Linked DNA regions of Homo sapiens: all the other regions are linked to region 2. Evidence: fine-mapped expression QTL. A gene starts in region 2. Each other region holds a variant in brackets. All regions are shown on one strand. Distances are from middle to middle.

Evidence for each region. PIP is the estimated chance that this variant, and not a neighbour inherited with it, causes the effect. A credible set is the group of variants that fine-mapping cannot tell apart.
Region 1: its variant is the best candidate, but not a certain one, in a credible set for the expression of CACUL1 in whole blood (TOPMed, PIP 0.67).
Region 3: its variant is the best candidate, but not a certain one, in a credible set for the expression of CACUL1 in whole blood (INTERVAL, PIP 0.50).
Region 4: its variant is the best candidate, but not a certain one, in a credible set for the expression of CACUL1 in gastroesophageal junction (GTEx, PIP 0.70).

Annotation. Positions count from the first base shown.
Region 1 is chr10:118,727,554-118,733,148 of GRCh38, forward strand. It overlaps CACUL1 (CDK2 associated cullin domain 1), which reads right to left. Exons shown (of 9, transcript NM_153810.5): 2 at 2,731-2,857; 3 at 1,742-1,844. Among named protein-coding and RNA genes, the nearest start is that of CACUL1, 25 kb to the right of the region's middle. The variant A/G (reference allele first, on the strand shown) is at 3,115.
Region 2 is chr10:118,751,517-118,757,111 of GRCh38, forward strand. CACUL1 (CDK2 associated cullin domain 1) reads right to left here and starts at 3,454. Exons shown (of 9, transcript NM_153810.5): 1 at 2,880-3,454. The coding sequence starts at 3,246. RefSeq lists enhancers at 3,383-3,522, 3,521-3,815.
Region 3 is chr10:118,557,334-118,562,928 of GRCh38, forward strand. No RefSeq gene overlaps it. Among named protein-coding and RNA genes, the nearest start is that of PRLHR, 36 kb to the right of the region's middle. The variant G/T (reference allele first, on the strand shown) is at 2,643.
Region 4 is chr10:118,712,879-118,718,473 of GRCh38, forward strand. All of the region lies in intron 3 of CACUL1 (CDK2 associated cullin domain 1), which reads right to left. Among named protein-coding and RNA genes, the nearest start is that of CACUL1, 39 kb to the right of the region's middle. The variant C/G (reference allele first, on the strand shown) is at 3,224.

The DNA of each region.
Region 1 (5,595 bases), 24 kb before region 2:
TGATATATACAGAACTGATGGGAATGCAACTTGATACAACTTCTGTGAACCACAATTTAGACTTAGTAAACGACATTACTTACAAGACTGACTATTCACTTCAGCACTGTTAGTAATGGCCAAAGACTGGAAGTAACCTAAATATTCATCAATCAAAAACTGGTTAAATTAAGGTGTATCAATGAAGTAAGGCAGTTGAGATAAGCATTTCAGTAAAACAGTCGAGAAATGATGATGAACCTGACTAGGGTACTGGCAAATGAACAGAAGTGTGTGACAGAGTCCACAGCGAGACCCGAAGTCCATAAACTGGATTCAGGTAGAAATTCAGGTAGATGGTGGAGTGAAGAATTAGAAAGCAAATCACTCAAAAGCTATAAAGCATAGATCTAGGGTTTCATCAACAATTTATACACAATGCCTAAGCACTAAACATATGTGTTAAATGAATAAAGATTTTATAGTTAGCGGCAAAAAGATGAAGAAAGAAATTTATACTAACAACAAGAAAAGTATATATCTGACTATGACAAAACACAGCTCTATCATTTGAAACAGAAAACAAAATGCTACTTAGTGCAACAACTGTTTGGGGAAAAAAAACACAAAAAAACTAAGCTATCTCAGACCACAAGTTGTGAAGAACAATATCCAAGCCCAAAGCACACCCCAGCATGTGCTATAAACTGTGGTTATTTCAAAACTGCTGGGGTGCTTCCTAATTGTGGTATAGACCCTGGTAATCTATTGCTGAGTGACTTTTCTTTTTTTTTTTTTTTGAGACGGAGTCTTGCTCTGTCGCCAGGCTGGAGTGCAGCGACGCAATCTCGGCCAACTGCAACCTCCGCCTCCCGGGTTCAAGCGATTTCCCTGCCTCAGTCTCCTGAGTAGCTGGGACTACAGGAGTGTGCAATTTTAGTAGAGACGGGGTTTCACCATGTTGGCCAGGATGGTCTCGATCTCCTGACTTCGTGATCTACCTGTCTCGGCCTCTCAAAGTGCTGGGATTGCTGAGTGATTTTTCTAGACATTCTTCTACTTCTATACCAAAAGCAAAGTGGGATCAAGCCCTGGTATAAAGATTATTTGGTTGGTGCAAAAGTAACAGAGGTTTCTGTCATTATTTTCAAAGGCAAAAACCACAATTCCTTTTGCACCAACTTAATAATACCTGATCTTCAAGCACTGAAGGTTTACTGAAGTGGGCAGGGGGAGGATCAAGCTAAGTGCTCCCTTAAACAGGAGTTTTTCTGCAACCTGCCCCAGATTTTAGAGCTGAGATGATGCCTATTTACAGGAGGTTTATCAATAAAGTGTTTACTTCAGTTGTTTATATTGAAAGGTATTATAAATCAGTAGGCAAACCACTCTTCAAAGATGATAATACGAGTTCCAAAACAAGTTAAAATATGCACATATTTTTGTATCATAAAAGTCACCAAATATTGACATTGACAGAAAAAAATAAAGTTTTAAATAAAAGAAATGTTGACATGATAATCAATAGAATCAGTTAAGGTCTGAAATATATTTAATCCAAAAATTTCCACAATTTATACCAAATTTTCAAATTAACAATCTATTCCAAAAATTACATGATTTGATCAACATTCACCTAGAAAACATTTATAAATTTATATCATAATCAAATTAACAAGCTTCCAAATGTGTATTAGAAAAGCTAACTGCAACCAGTCAGGAAAACCCAAGGAAGCAAAAATCAATACAATCAGTTCTTTACCTGCAGCTCCTTTGAGACTCTCTCTAAGTGATTAGTTATCTTTTTAATCAGATCACTATACATCTGTTCCGAGTGCTGCTGGCATACACATTTATACACACAACTGTAAAACAAACAAAAACCCCCACAAACCAAGTTAATCATAAAGCACTTAACTCAGTCCAAGGTTAAAGCACACTTTTGATATATAACCACTGATCCAATAATTCATACCTTCAAAAAGTAACCAATCACAACTTTTAAATAAAAACTTTATCCTCCCCCATCGGTGTTCGGATGGAAAAGATAGTACCATCTGCTATAAATATGCCCTTCTAAGTAGTGTATTACACATTTAATCAGTACTAGAGAATCTAATAGTAGGTGAGAATCTAAGGTCTGAATATGATAACTATTTATAAACCAGGTTCTCTCTCTCTTTTTAAATGAATGTCAAAATAAGGAAGAGAGAGTGGTTGATAATCAGTAGAGAGAGGTTTCTAACTCACGGAAGTGTTTGCAATACAACCTCTTTGTACATCAGCTGTGTGGAACAACATACTTGTCACTTCCTCCTTTCACTGTGCTGATCTCATATCCCACCCCACTTCCTAATTTGCTGCTTCCATTAACAGGAGCTGAGAAACAAAATAACCAAAGAGAGTTAGAATTGTGTGTCAATAAACACCAACAGATTAAGGTCTCCCTCTGAGACTAAAAATATGATTTTTACACCAGATACTTCAGTCATTCTTGCTTTTATTGCTGACTTCCACAGTGTCTGCATTATGTATGGTGGAGGTGGCAGGCTTCCTCTGTCATGATCTGAAAACCACTTTTGAATCAAAAAGTATAAACCAAACCCTCCAATCCGTAAGTGTGGAATACATAAAACACTTACAGAGCCTCATCTTATGCATTCTACATTACATGTTTGTGTGAGGCATAATTCAAGTGCCTTGAACCTTAGTATACCCTTTCAAACCCAAGCAAATTAAATCTTAACTTACCTGTATATCTGTTCATAGGATATGGGGATATAGTCACCAGGACTCTGAGTTAAAAGTTGATCTATGGCACCATCCAATTTTGGCCAGTATGTGCTCTTATAATCTTCAATAGTTATAACATTCATTACTAAAAGTAAAAAGTAAAATAAATATTACTACGTGCCACATGTGGAGCAAACACAAATCACAGCCATTTTGCACTCTCAAATTCCTCTCACTTACTCTTCTGATTTTACACTGACACTCTATCACCTAACTATCCTATTTCAATTAAAAACAAAAAAGGCAACCTGGTCAAGGATGTTAAGCAGCCATTAATCATGGATTTAAGAGAAGTTAGTATGAACCTGTCCATCTTTAAAAATAACAACCAAACAAGCAATC[A/G]TCACTGGCTTCCTTCTGGGTTTCCTGTAAGCTTCTGTCATTAGTGGAGCAGTCTCAAACATGCTCTGACCCTCAAATACACACTGCCAATTATGTGACAAAATGGCCTATCAATGAACCACAGGAAAATTTGGAGAAATCGTGAACACCAACAATCAATCTTTGTAGACATCCTCGAGGAAATGTGCCTAAGGACAGGACTATGAGGATTAAGGTCCAAATGCTGCAATCACAAAGAGGTTGCTGTAAAACTTGCCGAGATTTACAACAACACCAGCACCTCTTCATCATTACTACAGCTCCAACTCAGGCTGCTACTATCTTAAACTGGATAAGCCCAACAGAAAAGAAGTCAGTGAACTGGGACCCTGCGCTGAGGCTTACTTCATTCCTACAGACAGGCTCTTACTCCCACACTACAGGTTTCCACAAAGCATTTGTACAGTGGATCCTAACAGCTTTGAAATCCAGGTAACAGTTGCTTCACGGCACTGAAATGTTAATATTAAAAAAAGAGCTACCAGAAGAACCTGCCTATATTCTGTGTCATGAATCACAGTTACCTCAGGAGTAACAACAACGAGACCAGGTATTTCACTGTTTATTTTACCAGACTAGGAAGCAGAGTGGTTAAGTGACTTCCTCAAGAACTCAAGGCTCATTACTGTCAGAGATACCAGGTAAAGCAAAGCCTTCCCAGTATCTTTTTATCACATTATCGATTTCCACACCTTAGTCATCCAGGTTCAAGATTTTTTTCTATGTACCATCTATATCATTTTTGTTCAATACTTTCTTTAAATCAATCCACTTCTGTTATTTAATTTTATTTTACAGGACATCTGAGGAATGAACTACTGAGGAATGTTCACAAAACAACATGGCATAATCTTAAATCCATTTTGCTAAGTGAAAGAAGCCAGACCCAAAGGGCTACATATTCTAAGAGTCCCATTTACATGATACTAATAAAGGCAAAACTATAGGGAGGAAAACAGATCAGTGGTCGACAGGGGCTGGAAGGTGGGGAGAAGGATTATCTATAAAGCAGTAGCATGGAGGAATTTTTATGGCAATTAACTGTTTTGCATGAAACTATGGTGGGGGATACACCACTTCACGCATTTGTCAAGACCAAAAGAACTGTACATCAAATTACTATGTAAATTTAAAAAATCAACAAGGCTGTAGTGGTAAAGATGAAATGCAAAACACAAAAAATGAACCGAATTACAAATGAATCACATAACCCACACTGAATGGAATGGGGAATAAAGGAGTGTTTTGACTAATGTAAAGCTAAAGACAAAAAGAACCGTACATGCACGTGCGCAAACATAACAGTAGGAAGAGGCCAGACATGTAGGTCCTTATGGGCCATTGTAAAGACTTTGACTTTTACTCTAAGGTGGAAGCCTCTCTGGAGGGTTTTGAGCAGAGGAGTGACATGATCTGGCTTAGGTTTTATATGGATCATTCCAGCAGCTGTGCTGAGGGTAAACTAAGTTTGGAGGCTGTGAGCTGATATGGGGTTGGGCCAGATGGTGGCACTGAGGACAATAAGGAGAGATCAGATTTTGAAGATATTTTAAAAACAGAGTCAACAAGATTTGCTGATAGATTAGATGTGAGATGTGAAAGAAAGGTCGAGTGGCTCCAAAGTTTTTGGCTTCAGCACCGAAGGATGGGGTTGTCGTTTACTAAAATGAGGAAGACTGCACGAAAAGCTTAGCTGTCCAGCGGGCATAGCAGATACTGTTGGTGCCCCACCCATTTACCCCATCCACACCCTACGACTACTTCTCTCAATGTTCTGTCCAGCTGCCAGAGCTTGCTCTGCTTGCGGGAGGAGCAGGTAAGAAATTGTGGGAGAATTAACCCCAAAGCAGCCTTCAACCAATGACTACTGAGGATTCAGTGTCATTACCACCAGTAGCTCCCTCTCCTTTTGGGTGAGGCGACTCTAAGGCCCCTGTGCTATACTGACTCCCAGAGCTCCCCACTGGTACTAAGCTCCAGCTGCCTACAGTGGTGACTTTACCTTACTGGCTTCCTTACCTTCCCTGCCTCACTTCCCCAATCCCCCTAGAGCTGCTTCCCAGGGTCACCGTCTTGCTCTTGATACTGAAAAGTGTTACACACTAGGCTCTAGAATATGACCTTTGTATTTATGTAATCCTTAGGATTCAAAGAAAACTGAAAAAGAAATTACATTCTCACTGTGTGATTCTGAGTTACAGAATCCCTTATCAGTGTACCACCTAAACCACATGAAATACCTCTCTACACCGAAAGTTGAGAGTTGAAGGTTAGATAACACGCTCAAAAAGAAAACTGCAAGTAGTAACACCAGTAATTAACATACCTATCTTCTGGGCTCCTAAAATGCTTAGTTCAATAAACCACATGCTATGGCTCCAGCTGGGAGCACTCCTACTTCTCAAGCACAGGCTTCGCACTTTAGCAAATCACCAAGTCAAA
Region 2 (5,595 bases):
ACATGTATCCAGGTAAGTCTCTGCCCTCCAATTTGTTTCCTTGGTCTATTTTTCTGTTCTCGCACTTACACCACTTTAACTACAGCCTTGACATCTTAACTTCTAATAAGGCAAGCCTCCCATCCCCAAACAAATCTTTAAGATTGATTCTGTTATTCACAAACTTTATCCCACACACCATATAAATTTTAGACTTAGGCTATTGAGTTTGTCAAACCAAATGTAATTTTGACGTCATTTAAACTGAATTTATAAATTGGAGAAAATTAGTATTCTTGTAAGTAATTTGATCCAAGAGCAAGGAAAATTGTACCATTTATTTAGATTATCCTCTAGTTTCTTTTTCAAGTTTTAAAGTTTCCTTTTTAAAGGTCTTGCGTATTCACGGGTTGATTCCTAGAGACTTTAGAGTTTTGTTGCTATTATTACATATAGTATTTACTTTTGATTATCTTTACTAGTTATCACTAGTTTAGTAAATGCTATCAAATTTTTGTAAGTTTATCTTAAATCCAGCAATCCTGCTAAACTCTTACTAGTTCTAAGTTTTCTCTGGATTTTAATGGTTCATCTAGGTAGGTGATCATATTATCTGCAAATAATAACTTTTATTGCTTCCCTTACAATCTTTATACCTTATTTTTTTGCTCCTTATAATGTTAGCCAGGACCTTCCTACAATGCTAAACAGTAGTAATGACAGGAGCATCCTTATCTTGTTACGGATCTTAAAGTATATGTATCTAAAATTTCTCCATTAAGTATTATTATTTACTGAAGGTTTTTGGTAATGACCTTTATCTAGTTATCTTGTACTCCTAGGTTACCAAGAGTTTTTATCATAAATAGCTGCTGGATCTAGTTGAATGATTTCAGGGCACCAATTGAGATAATCGTAATTTTTTTCCTTTAGTCTATTAAAGAGCTAAATTAGATAAGTAGATGTTAAACCATGCTTTCATCTCTAGGACTAACTCTATGGATCAGGACTCTGTAACACACTGTTGGATTTGATGAGCGAGTATTTATTCTGCAGTATTTTCATTTCTATGCTAAGTAAAACAGACCTATAATTTTCTCTTCTTACATGTCCTTATCTGTTTTAGAATCAAGATTTCACAAGCCTCATAAAATGAACTTGGTATTTTTTCTATTTTCCAGTGCAACTTGCAAAAAGAATTAAGTGTTAAAGTATGGTGGAACTCATCAGCGTATCTGGATGCAGAGCTTCTAAAAAGGGAGATCTTTACCATTTCAGTTTATTAGTTCAAGATATTTCTTCTGATACCAATTTTCACATTTACTAGTTTTCTAAGAACTATATTTTTCATTTAGGCTTTCAAATTCATCAGCCTAAGTTCATAACGTTCTTTTTTTAATCTGATATTTGTAGTTATTTTCCATTTTTCATTTATTTGCATCTTTTTTTCTTGTCGTTTTTATCAGAGGTCTGTCTGCCTAGCTTACTCATCTTTTCACAAAAATAATCTTTTGGTGTGACAAATCCTTTTGTTCTCAATTTTACTGATTTCTGTTCCTAACTTTATGCTCTTTTTTGAACTCTTCAAAGGAACTTTACTAAGGCAATCTTCCTTCGTGACTCAGGTGAAGTCATTCTGCCACTCTACAGGAGGTCTGGTTCCACAACACAGCCTTCAACACACAAACTATACAATATAAACATGATTATCATGAATAAGGAGAAAAAGCGTATATAATCTTACCAAACGTACATATCAATGTCTTTGACTAAGGCAGTATCTTGGGGCAAATAAAATTACGCGCTGTTCCCACACACAGTGTGTAAGATTCCGACTATCTGCATCAAGGCAAATATTTTCTCTGCACAGCTAACTGGACAAGTACAGCTTCATAAAATTAGTAGCTAGAAATGAACTCTCCAGTTGCTTTACCAGATGCCACTCAAAACTTGCAGTTAATAATAGGAGAGAAAAACCTGGCTGTGATGGTCACAATCATTTTCAACATCCTATCACCACCACCACCGCCACGCACACATACACACAAACCAAAGTAAAAGCACATTCTTTTCCTAGCTATGGAAGCATACATATATCCTGGTCAGAGGCAGTTTCGGATTACAAAACAGATTTTGGTCTTAAATCTTAATGCGTGCAATTGAGCGTTAAGACAGACTACTAACATAAAGTTCAACATGCAACCCAATCTTGGGTTTGGACACAAGACATAACCCATCCTGAAAGGCTTATTCTTATGAGTGTAAGCTCTGAAAAGTGATTTTATGCATTATTAGCTTCAAGACGATGTCGGAGCTGCCACTGCATCGGAAAGCAACTCATTATTTCCCTAGCAGGATGCAAAAGTGTAACACAGTAGAGAAGGAACAAGGTGTAGATATAGGTCAACTTTCAAATTCCTTACTTGTTTAACACAGCCTGGCCAAAAACACAAGAACACAAGTTGCCAGATTTCTTTTCTCTCTCTGGCTGCAGAAGACTGAAGGCCTTTCCCTAACGAGACTCAGGCAGCCTTATTTTCCCCTCACTTTGAGGGTGAAACTTCAAGAGAAGACGGGTGCGAAAAGAGCTTCCCAATGTTGAGAGACTGCCAGTTGTGATAGGGATCGCACTGACCGAACTTGGGGCTCCGTGTGTACCAGGCTGCCTCTCTAGGCCAGGTAATACAAGAAGCCAGGGCCGCTCAGGCGCTGGCCGCAGACACCAAATGAGGGGGAGGGGACGGTGAGGGGGAAGGAGGCAGGGAGGCGAAGGCGGACGGGGAGAAGAGGAAAGACCGAGGCCTGAAACAAAGGAAGCGGAGCTTTCTCCAAGAGGGGGTGGATTCGGCGTCCGAGTGAGGTGGAGAAAAGCCAAGGCTGCAGGGAAAGGCTGGACTCACAGAACTTGGAGGTGGAGGTGTTGATGTTGATGGTGGAGCTGGCGGTGGGGGCGGGGGCCGCCTTGGCCACGGCGGCGGCCGCGTCGCAGCTCTTCAACATCATGATCACCCCATTAGCCTCCGGCGGTGGCTGCGGCCCCATCGGGAGCCCCTCCTTGGGGCCTTTCCTGTCCACGGAGACCGCGGGCACCGCCAGCAGCTGCCCCCCCGGAGGCTCTCGGGCAGGGGCCGGGATCGACGAGGGGGGCGGCGGAGGTGGCAGGGGCTGCCGGAAGCCGTCCACCGCAGCCTCCCAGTTGTTGTGGTTCTGGTCGTCCATCATCGCCTCGTAGCTGCCCCCCTCCTCCTCTTCCATGCTTTCCTCCATCCTGCTGGCCCCCGGCACCCGCCCGCCTCACAGGCACCTGCCGCCTGTCTCAACCCCGGGCCAGCGGGCACCGCTGCCTCCCCGAGTTACATCGCCGGCGGCAGGAATGGGCGCAGCGGAGAGGGCTGCGGTGCGCAGGGTCTCTCGCTCTCCGCGGGGCCGACTAGCTTGAAGACGCGGCTGACGGCGGTGGGCGCTCCGGGGCTCTAGTCTGGGAGAGGCAGCCGTAAAGCAGCGGCGCTCCTCACGACGTTTTACAGCGGCTTCCAACAGGCAGTTGGAAAGGGCAGCTGGGGGCGCGGCCAGGAGGGCACGTGGTGCGAGGGACTGGCCGCGAGAAAGCGGAGCCAAAAGGGGCGGGAGCTGTGAGTCACTCCCACGCAACAGGGCAGAGGTTCGCCCCGCCTCGGCTGGCAGGGAGCTAACAGGGGAGGCGCGACGGGTCGGGACGGGCATTCGCCGGCCCCGCCCCCTGCCCGGCCTCACGTGACAAAGGTGTGTCTTGCGCACGCGCGTTCGCAATCTGGTTACCATGACGACGAGGCCCTCGCCGGTTCCTGAGGACGCGCGCGGAGCAGTCTTGGCAGTAGCTGTGGACTGGCCAGAGTGATTGGAGGTGTTTTCCTCGCGTCCTCCAAGTCTACGGGGCCTTCGCACCTCTGAGTGCCTGAGAGCCCCGGCTTTTGCTTGGGACGGAGGTACGGGACCACAAGAGGCCCCGGGGTCGCAGGTTATAAACGGATGAGACCGCCCTGGGCGGCCCGTGGTCCGACTGCTCTTGGGTCGGTCCCCAGCCGTCGCGACACACACGCACAAAATCGAGAATAAAAACCGAATCACACATAGCAGGATGGCGCAAAAAAGAAATGCGTTTGAGTTACTCATGTGTTTTTAAAATTCCTTTACGTTTGTATGCACTAAGGCCAGCAACCCAACTTTTAAAAATGCCGGCTCAGGCCGGGCGCGGTGGCTTACTCCTGTAATCCCAGCACTTTGGGAGGCTGAGGCGGGCGGATCACGAGGTCAGGAAATCGACACTATTCTGGCTAACACGGGAAACCCCGTTTCTACTAAAAATACAAAAAAGTTAGCCGGGCGTGGTGGCACGTGCCTGTTGTCCCAGCTAGCTGCTCGGGAGGCTGAGGCAGAATTGCTTGAACCCGGGAGGCAGAGGTTGCAGTGAGCCGAAATCGCGCCACTGCACTCCAGCCTGGGCAACAGAGCGAGACTCCATCTCAAAAAAAAAAAAAAAATGCGAGCTGGGCGCAGTGGCTCACGCCTGTAATTCAACCACTTGAGGAGACAGAGATGGGAGGCCCGCTTGTGCCCAGGAATTCGAGACCAGCCAGACCAGCATAACAAGACCACGCCTCTAAAAACAAAATTAGCCTGGCATGGTGGCGTGTGCCTGTGGTCCCAGCTACTCTGGAGGCTTAGGTGGATCACTTGAGCCCTGGAGGTCAAGGCTGCAGTGAGCCGAGATCGCGCAACTGCACTCCAGCCTGGGTGACAGAGTGAGACTGTCTCCAAAAAAAAAAAGAGAATTAAGTGGTATGCTGAAGGGGAAAACATAAAACCTTAGAATTACATGTGTGGCAAAAAGAGAGGCAGAAGGAAGGCAAATTCTGTTTCAAACAACTAATGGTTTATCATCAACAGACTCTAGGTAGATGGCTGGGTGAGTGCGATGGGATAAAGAAGGGTCTTTACATTTAAAAAAAAAGTCCAATATACAGGGAAGATAGAGTCAAAAAAGTGTCTCTAACATACTGTGTCATAAAGCAAGTCTTTACATATCTAAGGATTTATATCATAGCGACTATATGGCCACAAAATATATGAAGCGAAAATGAACAGAAGTATAAGAAGACAAAGAAATCTACCATCAGAGTAGGTGATTTTTCACTCCCTCTCTAATTGCAGTGAGTTGAATACAGCCTCCCACAAGATATGTCCATATCCTAATTCCTAGAACTTGCGAGTATGACCTTATTTGGAAAAACGGCGTTTGCAGATGTAATTAAAGTTCTTGAGATGAGAAGATCATCCTGGATTATCCAGGTGGGCCATCAATCCAATGATAGGTGTCTTTATAAAAGAGAGGTAGAAGAGAAGAGAAGGTAATGTAACCACAGAAGCAGAGATTGGAGTGATGGCATTCCCAAGTCAAGGAATGCTGACAGCACCCAAAGCTGGAAGAGACAAATTTTCCTCTTGAGCCTCTGGAGGGATTGTGACCCTGCCAACATGTAGATTTCAGACTTCTAGATGCCAGAACTGAGAATTCATGTCGGTTTTTTTAAGCCACCTATTGTGATAATTTGTTAAGCAACTGATTACAGGAAACTA
Region 3 (5,595 bases), 190 kb before region 2:
TGAGACGAGCCTGGCCAACATGGTGAAACTTCATCTTTAATAAAAATACAAAAAACTTAGCCAGGCGTGGTGGCGTGCACCTGTAGTCCAAGCTACTCAGTTGGCTGAGGCATGAGAATTGTTTAAACCCAGGAAGCAGAGGTTGCAGTGATCTGAGCTAGTGCCACTGCACTCCAGCCTCAGCAAAAGAGAGAGACTCTGTCTCAAAAATAATAATAATAACATTTTAAAATCATTTCTTATAATTTTTTATTGAGTAATAGACATTGTGAATCAAAAAAATGTGGAGCTCTGGATGATGTTATCTCTCTCCCAAATGGTTAAGATTTTTCTTCTTTTTCTTTTTGGTAAGTTAACAGATCACTTTATTCTATTGAAAGTTAATTTTAAGACTTTCTTAGAGTTCATCTCTTTCAGTTTTTCCCTCTCTTACAGAGCATGGTCCCTCTGAGATCTTAACAGAGAATCTGAGGCATTAACCAAACCTCTCCCAATTTGAAAGAACTTAAATTCCAATTTCTAGCTCCTCAGCAATGGTAAGCTTTGGGATCTCTACTCAGAAGTTCAGCCTCCCAACTGCTGCTTTCTGCTTGGCTCTTTGGAATCACTCTGTACGCGGAAATCTCAGGAGACAGCCAATGACCTAAGAGGCATTTTAGAGCTTCTCTCATTGCAGCTAAGTCTTTTCCAGAATTTTGTTCCTCAATCCTTTCCTGCTCTGGCAGACTCAGACTTCATCCATTGTCTCCTTGGCCCAGTCAGATTACAGCTTTCTGCTTGGCGAAGGCCTAGTGCTTATTGAACTGCAATGTGCCCGCCCTTAGGGGGAAAGCTGAGGTGAGTATCTAAGCATGGAACTCATTCCAAGTATTTCCTTTCATTCAGGGATTGTGCTTCCTTCAGTTCCTGCCTGTTTTGGCTGCCCTCCAGGGCCTTCACATCTGTATCTCAGCCTCCACATCCATGAGTTTTACATTCACAGATTCAACCAAGCACAAATTGAAAATATTCAGAAAAATAAAAAATAACAATACAACATTAAAAACAATATAAATTTAAAACACAGGATAACTATCTACATAGATTTGCATTGTATTATGTATTATAAGTAATCTGAGATGATTTAAAGTATACGGGAGGATGTGCGTAGGTTATATGCAAAAACTACACCACTTTCTATCAGGGACTTAAGCATCTACAGATTTTGGTATCCAGGAGAAGGTCCTGAAACCAACTCCCTGAGCTATAACTGTACATATATCTATATCCATAATGTGGATAATTTTTCCTCCAGCTTTTATCATTACTGTCAGGGGAAGAGCTAACTCAATACATGCTATTTTGACGGGAACTGGGACACTAGTTAGAACAATTTTTTATTGTGAAAGGAAACAGATCCACAAGACTGTCTTCAAATGAATTCTTACGTAAAGCCTAATATATAATACAGGTGAAAGAAAAATCTAGTCTAGTGTTGATCAGTTCAGTAGAAAGTGTCCAGGTTATCACCCAGAAGATGGGATATAGGGCTGGTTATATTCTTTGAGACTCCCAAAGTTTGAAAATCACCAAGAACAGGAAGAAGTGTGGGTTTTAGATTCAAAGAGACCTCAGTATGAATACCAAACCTACTGCTTACTAGCTATGTGTCCATGGGTCAACGATTTAACTTCTCGCAAGCTAGGCTCCTCATCTGCAAAATGGAGACAGTCATGCCTACCTTGCTTTTTTGTGAGAAGTTATTATAAGAATTATCACAAAGTACATGAAAAGCAGCTTGCACATTCCTAAGTATATAATGGACAGAATTATGTGCTTCTCAAAGGCAAGCATGTTTTCTCCATTTTTTTAACACACTTACCTACCATCCCAGCATTGAACACTTGGTTGCTGAATAAATACTTGTTGTTTTACTTGCCTTTTCTCCATTAAAAAGATTTTCATGTAAAACTAGGCCTCCATAGCCCTAAATCCTGAGCTATTATTATTCTGAAATAGCACAGTGGGACACAAGATCATATAGAGAAGAATTAGGCTAAACAGAGCTTTTAATTGCAAATGGAGGATAAATGAAGATGGGCTCCCATATTTGCACGCACATGAAAATTGACAGTTCAGATAGTGATATAAAATTGAAGCTGTTACCTATAATGCTTGATATGAATTGTAAACTGATCTTCTACAATAGCCTAAATATCTCTAAATACATTTAATGTAACCATTCATAGCAGGCTCTTTTTGAAAAATAAATTTCCTTTACTGACTGTGTAAATGGATTAATTGAAAGACAATCATGAAAGGCTTTGCCATTGTGTGATGATAGTCTTGTTAATAAAACATCATGAAATTTTTCTAGGAAAAAAAGATGAGTTTTCTGATTTCAACAAAAGGGAAAAATGTTCCTTGCAACACAACAAATTTAAGAAAAGCAAGAGAGTAAATATTACAAAGAGATGTTAATTAATCGGAAGACAAGAAAGAACACAGTAAAATAAACAAATTTCCAGAAAGTATTGTTTTTTAAAAAAGGAAAACAGATATTGAGAATTAGAAATAAGTAAAGAGATATAAACAAAGATATGGAAGACATTTTAAGTCATGGGAAAATAACATGTATAATTCTGTATTAATAAATTTGAAAA[G/T]TTTGATAAAATAGATGGTTTTCTAAGAAAACATAAATTTTCAAAATTATCAAAAAATAAATGGTAAATCTGAGCAGACTACTAGCCCTGCAAGAAATTCAAAAAGTAGGCTAATAATTGAAAACATAATTTAGAAAGATCCTGGGCCTACTTGGTTTTACAGGCTCTATCTTTTCTTTGAATTTTTAAGAAACTATCACTTCTATTTTATATAGTTCAATAAGTCTGTAAAAAATAGTAAGTTTCCCAATTCAATTCATTAAGCCTAGAACACTCTTGATACAGTGCCAAGAAAATAAAAAATTTGCATGAATATAAATACAAAGTAAAGTTACAAATCAAGTCAAGTAGTGTTTTGAAATAATAATAACACCATAACCAACCATGATTTGGAATGCAAGCATGGTTCAATACCAGGAAAGCTATTAATGTGATTTATCACATCAGTAGATCAAAGAAGGCATTACAATAAGAAGAGAATAGTTAGAGGCTAACAGTCAGATTTAAAAGCCAGGGCCCCTGGGTTAGAAACCTGGCTTTTCCACTTCCACTGTGACTTTTATCAAGCAATCTAAGGTCTGTGCCCAATTCTCTTGCTATAACATGGGACATATTGTAAATGTTTTTTTCTTAATTTTCTATATATTATAATGTTTTGGTGCCTTTAAATAAACTTTTCTGGCTGGGGAGAGACTGTTCTTCCTAGAGCTAGTGAATTCTTGGAGGTTATAAGGGTCCAGACTGCAGCGTGCCTTTGACATGCAAACTCACCAGTCCAGAGCCACACCTCCTCTCTCTGGCCCTACATTCCGGGAGACAGTATTCCTCTGCCTTAGTCATCCCAGGGCCAGATACCAGGCAACTAGGGACCACCACCCCTTTAGCCCAAAGCTCACTGAAATTATCCAGACTGGCCAATCCTAAACTGTTCACATTGCCCTGCCTTGCCTTGCCTTTCCCTTGGAAACCCCAAGAAAAGGCAGTGACTTAAGCCTTCCCCCACCCCTGTCTTCTCTCTCCTGACCATCTGGTGTCGTTCCCATGTGGTCCCGCATGGTGTGCCCTGTACTTCCTGTCTCTGGGACCATGAGTATAATAAACTTCATTTTTTTTCCAGAGCCTTTCCTCTGTCTCCTTTTGTGGCCACATGTGACACCCACATAAAATAATACTACAAAATATGAGAATACTAACATTACATACTTTGTGGGGTTATTGTGAGAATTAAATAAACTAACACATGTAAAAGATGTTTACATCAATGCCTGGTGTATAGTAAATCCATAAAACTAATACTTGCTAGATATAATAAAACCTAAATCATCATCTCTATAAATGCCAATGATAAACTTTACCATCCTTCTCTGTTAGAAACTCTTGGTAAACCAGGAATAGTTCAACACCATGAAAATTGTCTATCCCGAACTAATAACTAACATCACTCCTCTGAGACAATAAAGGGACACCCACTAAAGCCAGGAGTAGGATCCCAATGGCCACTATCACCCCCTTGGCCTCCACCAGATAAGTTCCCAAGACAACCTGACCACAGTGAGAACGAAATGGCTCTCTAACTGCAATTTTATTTTATTTGTAATCAGATTTCTTTCTTCATTTTCTTGATCCTAGGTTAGGATTAAAATAATTTAAGTTATTAAATCATTTCCTCTCACACCAAGCCTGGCACAAAATGCACAAAGTGAGAAGCAAAGTGGCAAAGTGTCCCAAGAATGCTGCCAACAGTGATGCATAGCTCCATGATGAGATGTTGAGAGCTTCACTGGGGATGCAAACTCCAATTAGAGAATTTGACACTGGAAGAGAATTCACGACTTGTTCTAAGTCACCTTTCCTCTCTGACCTGGGTTCCCTCTTATAGAATAAAAATAGTGTGATCCAAGTAACTTTTGATGACAGTATTTAGACAACATGTCCTCACACTAAAACTTAAAAAAAAACAAAATACTGAACAAATACTGAACTCTAGTTAATAAGGTATTTTTTCCCCCACAAAGCCATGGGTTAGCAATTCTGAAACTAGGACTGAATAAATAAATAATATACCGAGGAACATGGGAGCCAGTTTCCCCACTGGTAGAGAAAGGAGTTACAAATACACGAGAAGGAAGGCGAGAATATGCTCTGTAGGACATGACTGAAATTTGGGGTATCAGTGGGAATTAATGAGTTTTAAAATATACACATTGCTCAATACAAAAATAAAGATAGATGCATGTGTGTGTGCATTCATTTATTTCTAAGCTCTGCCCACTGTGAGGGCCTAGAAGCAATGACATCCACCTAGTAATAAACCCCTAGCACTAAAACATTGGCACAAGACCCGTCTAAAAAAATAAAGAAAGAAAGAAAAAGAAGGAAAGTTCTTCCTTACAAAGGAGAAACAAAAAATATTGTATTAATAGAAGAAACAATAAAATTAGAAAATCACCATCATGATAACAATTGATTAAAGTCAGAATAACATATGGATCCTTAAACTAGTGGGTGAAATTTTTATTTTTACACATGAATATGTACATAGTCACAAATTACCTCTCCATACGATATTTATTAACGATAAATAGCAAACTAGTAACTTGACAGTAGAGAAACTTAGCAGACACCACCTTAAGTGATCGATGTTAACATCATCAGTTATGAGTCAAATTAAGATCCTGTGCCTCCTGATACAATGTACTGAGAAGAATACAACATCACTTATAATGTACTCCTGCCAAAAGGGCATAACCTGAAACTGACAATGAGGAAACATCAGACACACCCAAAGGAGGGTCATTCTGAAAAATGAACTGCTCTATACTCTTCAAATGTAAACACATGAAATACAAAGCAAGTCTTAGGGTCTATTCCAGTTTAAAGGATACTAAGGAGTCATGGCAACTGAGTACACCACACAATCCTGGGTTTTCTTTGGCTATGAAGACATTTATAA
Region 4 (5,595 bases), 39 kb before region 2:
CACCACAAGTTCCCACTCCAGTCTGTAGGACTGGCAGCCTGGCTCCCAGCCTTCAGGCCCTCCTTAGCTTGAAGGTGGAGGCCTCACTGGGGACCTGCCCTCTTCCACCCAGGAACCTGTCTGCCTCCTGCTGCCATTCATGGCGCCCAGGCTGTAGGTGCCAAGGGGCGCCTGCAGGCCAGCGCCAAGCTGCCCTCAGCACCCCTTGGCTTCCTTTCTGTGCTTGTCAGTGCCCAAAGTCCGGAGGGGGCCGAGGCAGCAGAGGGCTAGTGTGTTAGCACTGCCCTCAGCGTGTGCACAGCTGGCCAGGCTGCGACAGCACCTGGGCTCGCCCCCAACTTTGCTCCAAGATCAGAGTCAGTGCCGACAACTTGGAGAAGCCAGGCAGTAGTAACAGACACTTCTGAGCCTTCGAGGGCAGGGGGTCCTTCCTGGGCCCCCAAGAATGCAGGGATGCCTGAGTCCACAGCTGTGGATTGGGTGGCTGCAGCAGCACCCAGTGTGCTCCCACCCCAACTCAGAAGAGGCTCTTGCCGGCTCCATGGAGCATGCAGCCCCACCTGTTGACGCCTCCCTGCTACAGCAGCGTGATGGCAGTGGCCACTCCAGATGGGCCGCCACTGCCATCACCATTACTCCAAACTTGCTCCAATTTTTCTTAACAGATCTGGATTCCCTGAATTTTGTAATATAACTGTGTGAGAATATTTTTTAAATAATGAGTAATGTATTCATCTGGTTTAAAATTCAAATGAGTTCAAATGGGTTTAGAGTAAGTTTTCCTTTCATTCCTTCCTCCCTGAACCAACCAATACTTTTTATATCCTTCCAGAAGAACTTTATGCCTATACTAGAAAATAAATGTCCCATTTATAGTTCTTTATACACAAATGCTAAGGTATAATCACACATACCTGCAACTTTCCCTAACAATGTATATCTTGTAGTCAGTTTTATTCCAGTGGTTCTCGCTAACTTTTGGTCTCTGGAAACCTTTACATTTCTAACAACAACTCAAGATTCCAAAAAGCTTTTTGTTTATATGCAGGTTGTATCTGTAAGTATTTACCATAATAAAAATTAAAACTAAGTTCTAAAAATACTTATTAATTCATTCTAAAATGACAATAACAAACTCATCACCATCTTATTTTTATAAAAAATAACTATTTACCAAAACAAAATTTAGTAAGAGGAGTGTCACTGTTTTTACATTTTTGCAAGTCTCTTTAGAGCCTAGCTTAATAGAAGACAGCTGGATTCTCATATCTGCTTCTGCAATGAAATCAGTTGTGATGTGTTATTTTCTGAAACGATCAATGAATGTTTTGTACTCTATTCCATTAAAAACCACGGGTCTATCTTCTACTTTAAATGGATCTTTTCTGTATACATTTTATTACATCACACATTGGTCATTTGGAAAATACTGATTCTCTGAGTTATGTAGATCTTCCCAATGTTGATTTCATTAGACGGTATCAAAAAAATACATCTCTGATGAGACAGTATTAACACCTATCTCATCAGAAATCTTTTTAAGTATTGGGAAGCTATCAAGGTCACAGTGGTAGATATAAATTTTCCAAAATTTTAATTTTCACTTCAAAGCACAAGTTTCATTATTGGCAACAAATACTGTCAGTCATTTTCCTGGAAGTGACAATCTTAGTTCACTAATTTCTGAGAAAATGTCTGTCAAATACCAAAGTCTAACCGTAGTTTGTCAGTCTTTTTTTCAAGTGAAAATACCGTTCTATGCAGAAAAGCAGGGTTAGTTCAAAATTCATACAATCACATAAGCACCTTTTCTCAAAACCACCACTGTACTCTGGTATGCGGTGTCCCATTTCTTTACATAAAATATTTTTTAAAGTATAAAGTCACAATTTAATAAAATTAATAATTTTCTCTGTTTCATCTGGGACATTCTTAATGAAAATGGCTTCCTCACCCCGCAAGCATGTGGAAATGAAAATTCATGCTAAGGCACCAGCGTCTATCCATCATTACTTACAGACCCCCCTGAAAGGCTTTTGGGGACCCTCCGAAGTCCTCAAAACACACACACTTTAGGAATATCTATTTCTGTAAGATGCTTGAATGTACTATTTATTTAATCAGAGGTCATATTGATAGCTTCGTGCTAATCCTTTGTTACCAGATTGTTGCACTGAGTAACTTCATATAGATGTTATAGACAATAATTTCAAAACAACCTTTAAATTAAAAAAGGTAGAACTAGATAATAGTCTTATGCATAATTATATTAAAAATAATTTCAGTTGTCCAGTTTAAATAGTGAAATCTGCGAAATACCACTAAAAATATATATATACACATACATGGTCCTAGTGTGAGAAATGCCTTACAGCAAGAAAGGAAAAGACAGATTTGATATACATACCACACCTTCACAGAAGGGAAGGGGAAAGAAAGCTTGTCATCTTTAACTTTCAAAGCTAAACAAGGAAGGTTGATTGGTCAGTCACCCGAATTTGATGTATATTAATAATTTTAGAAGAGGATTATTTGTTTAAATAATTTTACTAGTCAAGAGACTTAAATATACTATCATGTGGGTCAGTACTGCCCAAAGGAACTTTCTGTGGTGATGGGAATGTTCTAAATCTGCACTGTCCACTATGGTAACCACTGGCCACGTTTGGCTATTGAGCCTTGGAATATGATTAATTAAACTAAGGAACCAAATATTTACTTCATTTTAATTGTAATAGTTACACATAACTAACTGGACAATGCAGATGTAAAATACAAACGAGTTCTACAATTTCATATTTATATCCCTCCTCCTCTACCTACCCCCATCCTCGTCCCCAGCCAACCGAAATGAAACATGAAAAAAATTAAGAATATGTGCTTTTATCTTCACAAAAGCATTCTGGTTGTCTTCAAATAAGTAAGTGACTTTTGCATGCTAGAATGAAGTAGACAAGAAGGGATGGAAGAGAAGGACCTACTAAACATGACAAAACATGTATCTTTGTAAAAGTAATGTACGTTCATTGAAATTTTTAAAAATTTAAAATGCAACTATGGAAAAATAACCACTACCGGCTGGGCGCGGTGGCTCACACCTGTAATCCCAGCACTTTGGGAGGCCAAGGCAGGCGGATCACGAGGTCAGGAGGTCGAGACCATCCTAACACGGTGAAACCCCGTCTCTACTAAAAATACTAAAAATTAGCCGGGCGTGGTGGCA[C/G]GCGCCTGTAGTCCCAGCTACTCCGGAGGCTGAGGCAGGAGAATGGCATGAACCTGGGAGGTGGAGCTTGCAGTAAGCCAAGATTGCGCCACTGCACTCCAGCCTGGGCGACAGAGCAAGACTCCGTCTCAAAAAAAAAAAGAAAAAGAAAAAGAAAAAAATAACCACTACCAACATTCGTAGAAAATTATTACCATTTTGGTATTTTTTTTTTTTTTCCTGTGTGCATGTGTCTGTTTCTAAACAAATATGGCTTATTTTGTAACCTGATTTTATCGCCCAACTATAGATCGTCACCATCTCTCCCAGGTCAAATTTCTTTCTATAACCTAATTTTAACAACTGTTTGGACACATCATTGCCTATTTCATCAGTCCCTTGTCACTGGATACTTAGGCTATGCTTTGCTGTTTATGTTATCCAGGTCTGCACGGATACTTCTAATTCAGACTAGCATTCCAGCTGTGCAAATGTGTTGAGTGGCATCAGCAACAACACAACCTCTTTTTTTTTTTTTTTGAGACAGAGTCTCACTCTGTCACCCAGGCTGGAGTGCAGTGGCGCGATCTCGGCTCACTGCAAGCTCCACTTCCCAGGTTCACGCCATTCTCCTGCCTCAGCCTCCTGAGTAACTGGGACTACAGGCACCCGCCACCACGCCTGCCTAATTTTTTGTATTTTTACTAGAGACACGGTTTCACCGTGTTAGCCAGGGTGGTCTCGATCTCCTGACTTCATGATCCACCCGCCTCGGCCTCCCAAAGTGCTGGGATTACAGACGTGAGCCAACGAGCCCAGCGCACTATCTTATTCTTAAACATAAGCTACACTGCACTCCCTGCTTAAGAGAGACTAGGTTCAGGAACAATGGTACATTTCCATACGCCAGTGGACCTCAAAGAATGCTTCTCTCCGAATCACCTGAAGGGACTGGTAATGACGCAGATTCCTTTGCCACACTCCAAAGTCTTGATTCAGAAACTTTCCAGAGGTGTGTATTTTTAGTGAGAACTTCAGGGAAGTCTGTAAACAGCTGGCCCACCTGTTAAGCATTTAGGAACCCTACACCTTAAGCCTCTTCCAAGAAATGAGAGGAGCTCTACAGGAAGGAAGTCTGCAGGATTCAAGAGAAAACTGAGCAGTAATCACCCATGTAACACAGGCATTTACTGCAGGACAATTTAGCTGCAAACTGCACTGAAATCAGTAAAAATATGATGCACTAACATTTTAACATTAACATAGGTGAATTTTTCCTCTTAAAAGTTAATGGCTTCTTGACTAGTATCAAATTCAGGGAGTATAAAGTTATCAAAATATAACTCAAGTTCCCCCTCAGCTTAGAATGCAGAAAGCTGTGAAAGAACATCACTCCCACTCTTATGGTAAGAAAAAGCTGGTTAACCAAAATAATCATAATTTTTCGAGCTCATCAGACACCTAAGGTTTCTTTAACTTACATCTGCAATGTTCAACTAGGTGAGAAGAATTTCAGAGTGACAAGCTCCTCTAAAAAAAAATAAAGGACACATGGACTATTTCTCTGTTGGTGATGGTAGTCATAAAAGCAGATAAGCAAACAACAGAAATTGTAATGAATCATTAAAGGCCAAGTGTGAACTAACAGTGTAGAATCCCTGGGAGGCTTCAACACAAGGGCAGTCAGCACCAGCACCTCCTCTCCAACTCTTTTCCATGGGTTTCCACTGGGTCATCAAGAGAAGGACTGGGGGCAGTGAAAGAAATCTGAGAGGCCATCCTCCATAGCAAGATGTGCCGGGCTTAGTAAGACCTGAGGATGAAGCAGGAATACCTAAAGAAGCCGATGAACACATCATGGGGTCCTCCATGACAAAAAAAGGTGGTGATTAACTGCCAATGGAAGACATGAACAAAAACTGCCTGTGCCCTAGAACCTACCCAGATTCAAAGCAAAAGCCATTTGCTGAAAGGAAGGGGTAAGAAACCCTGCAACCTGGTGACCCTTCTTTGACCTTAGGCAAAAACTGTCTACCACTGGAAGACAGGCAGGTGATCCTCCAGCCCTCCTGACAAGCAAAGGTCAGCAACCATTTTCAGGATGGTAGAAAATCCACTCATGCCCAGGTTTCCACACTGTTATGAAGCAAAAATATACTGCTGCTGATGGAAGCACAGGAAACTTGCTTACTCCCAAGGTTCCCCAAAGATACAAGGTAAAATTTGGTTGCCACAGGGTGTGTGGGGGGCAGGACAGGGAAGGGGAGAGTCGGGGAGGGAACTCACCTGCACACCAAACCAGAGATCAACAAACTAGAGGCTGTGGGCCAAATCTTGTCTACACCCTGTTTTGATTAAGTACAGTTGTTTTGAAACACAGCAATGCCCATTGT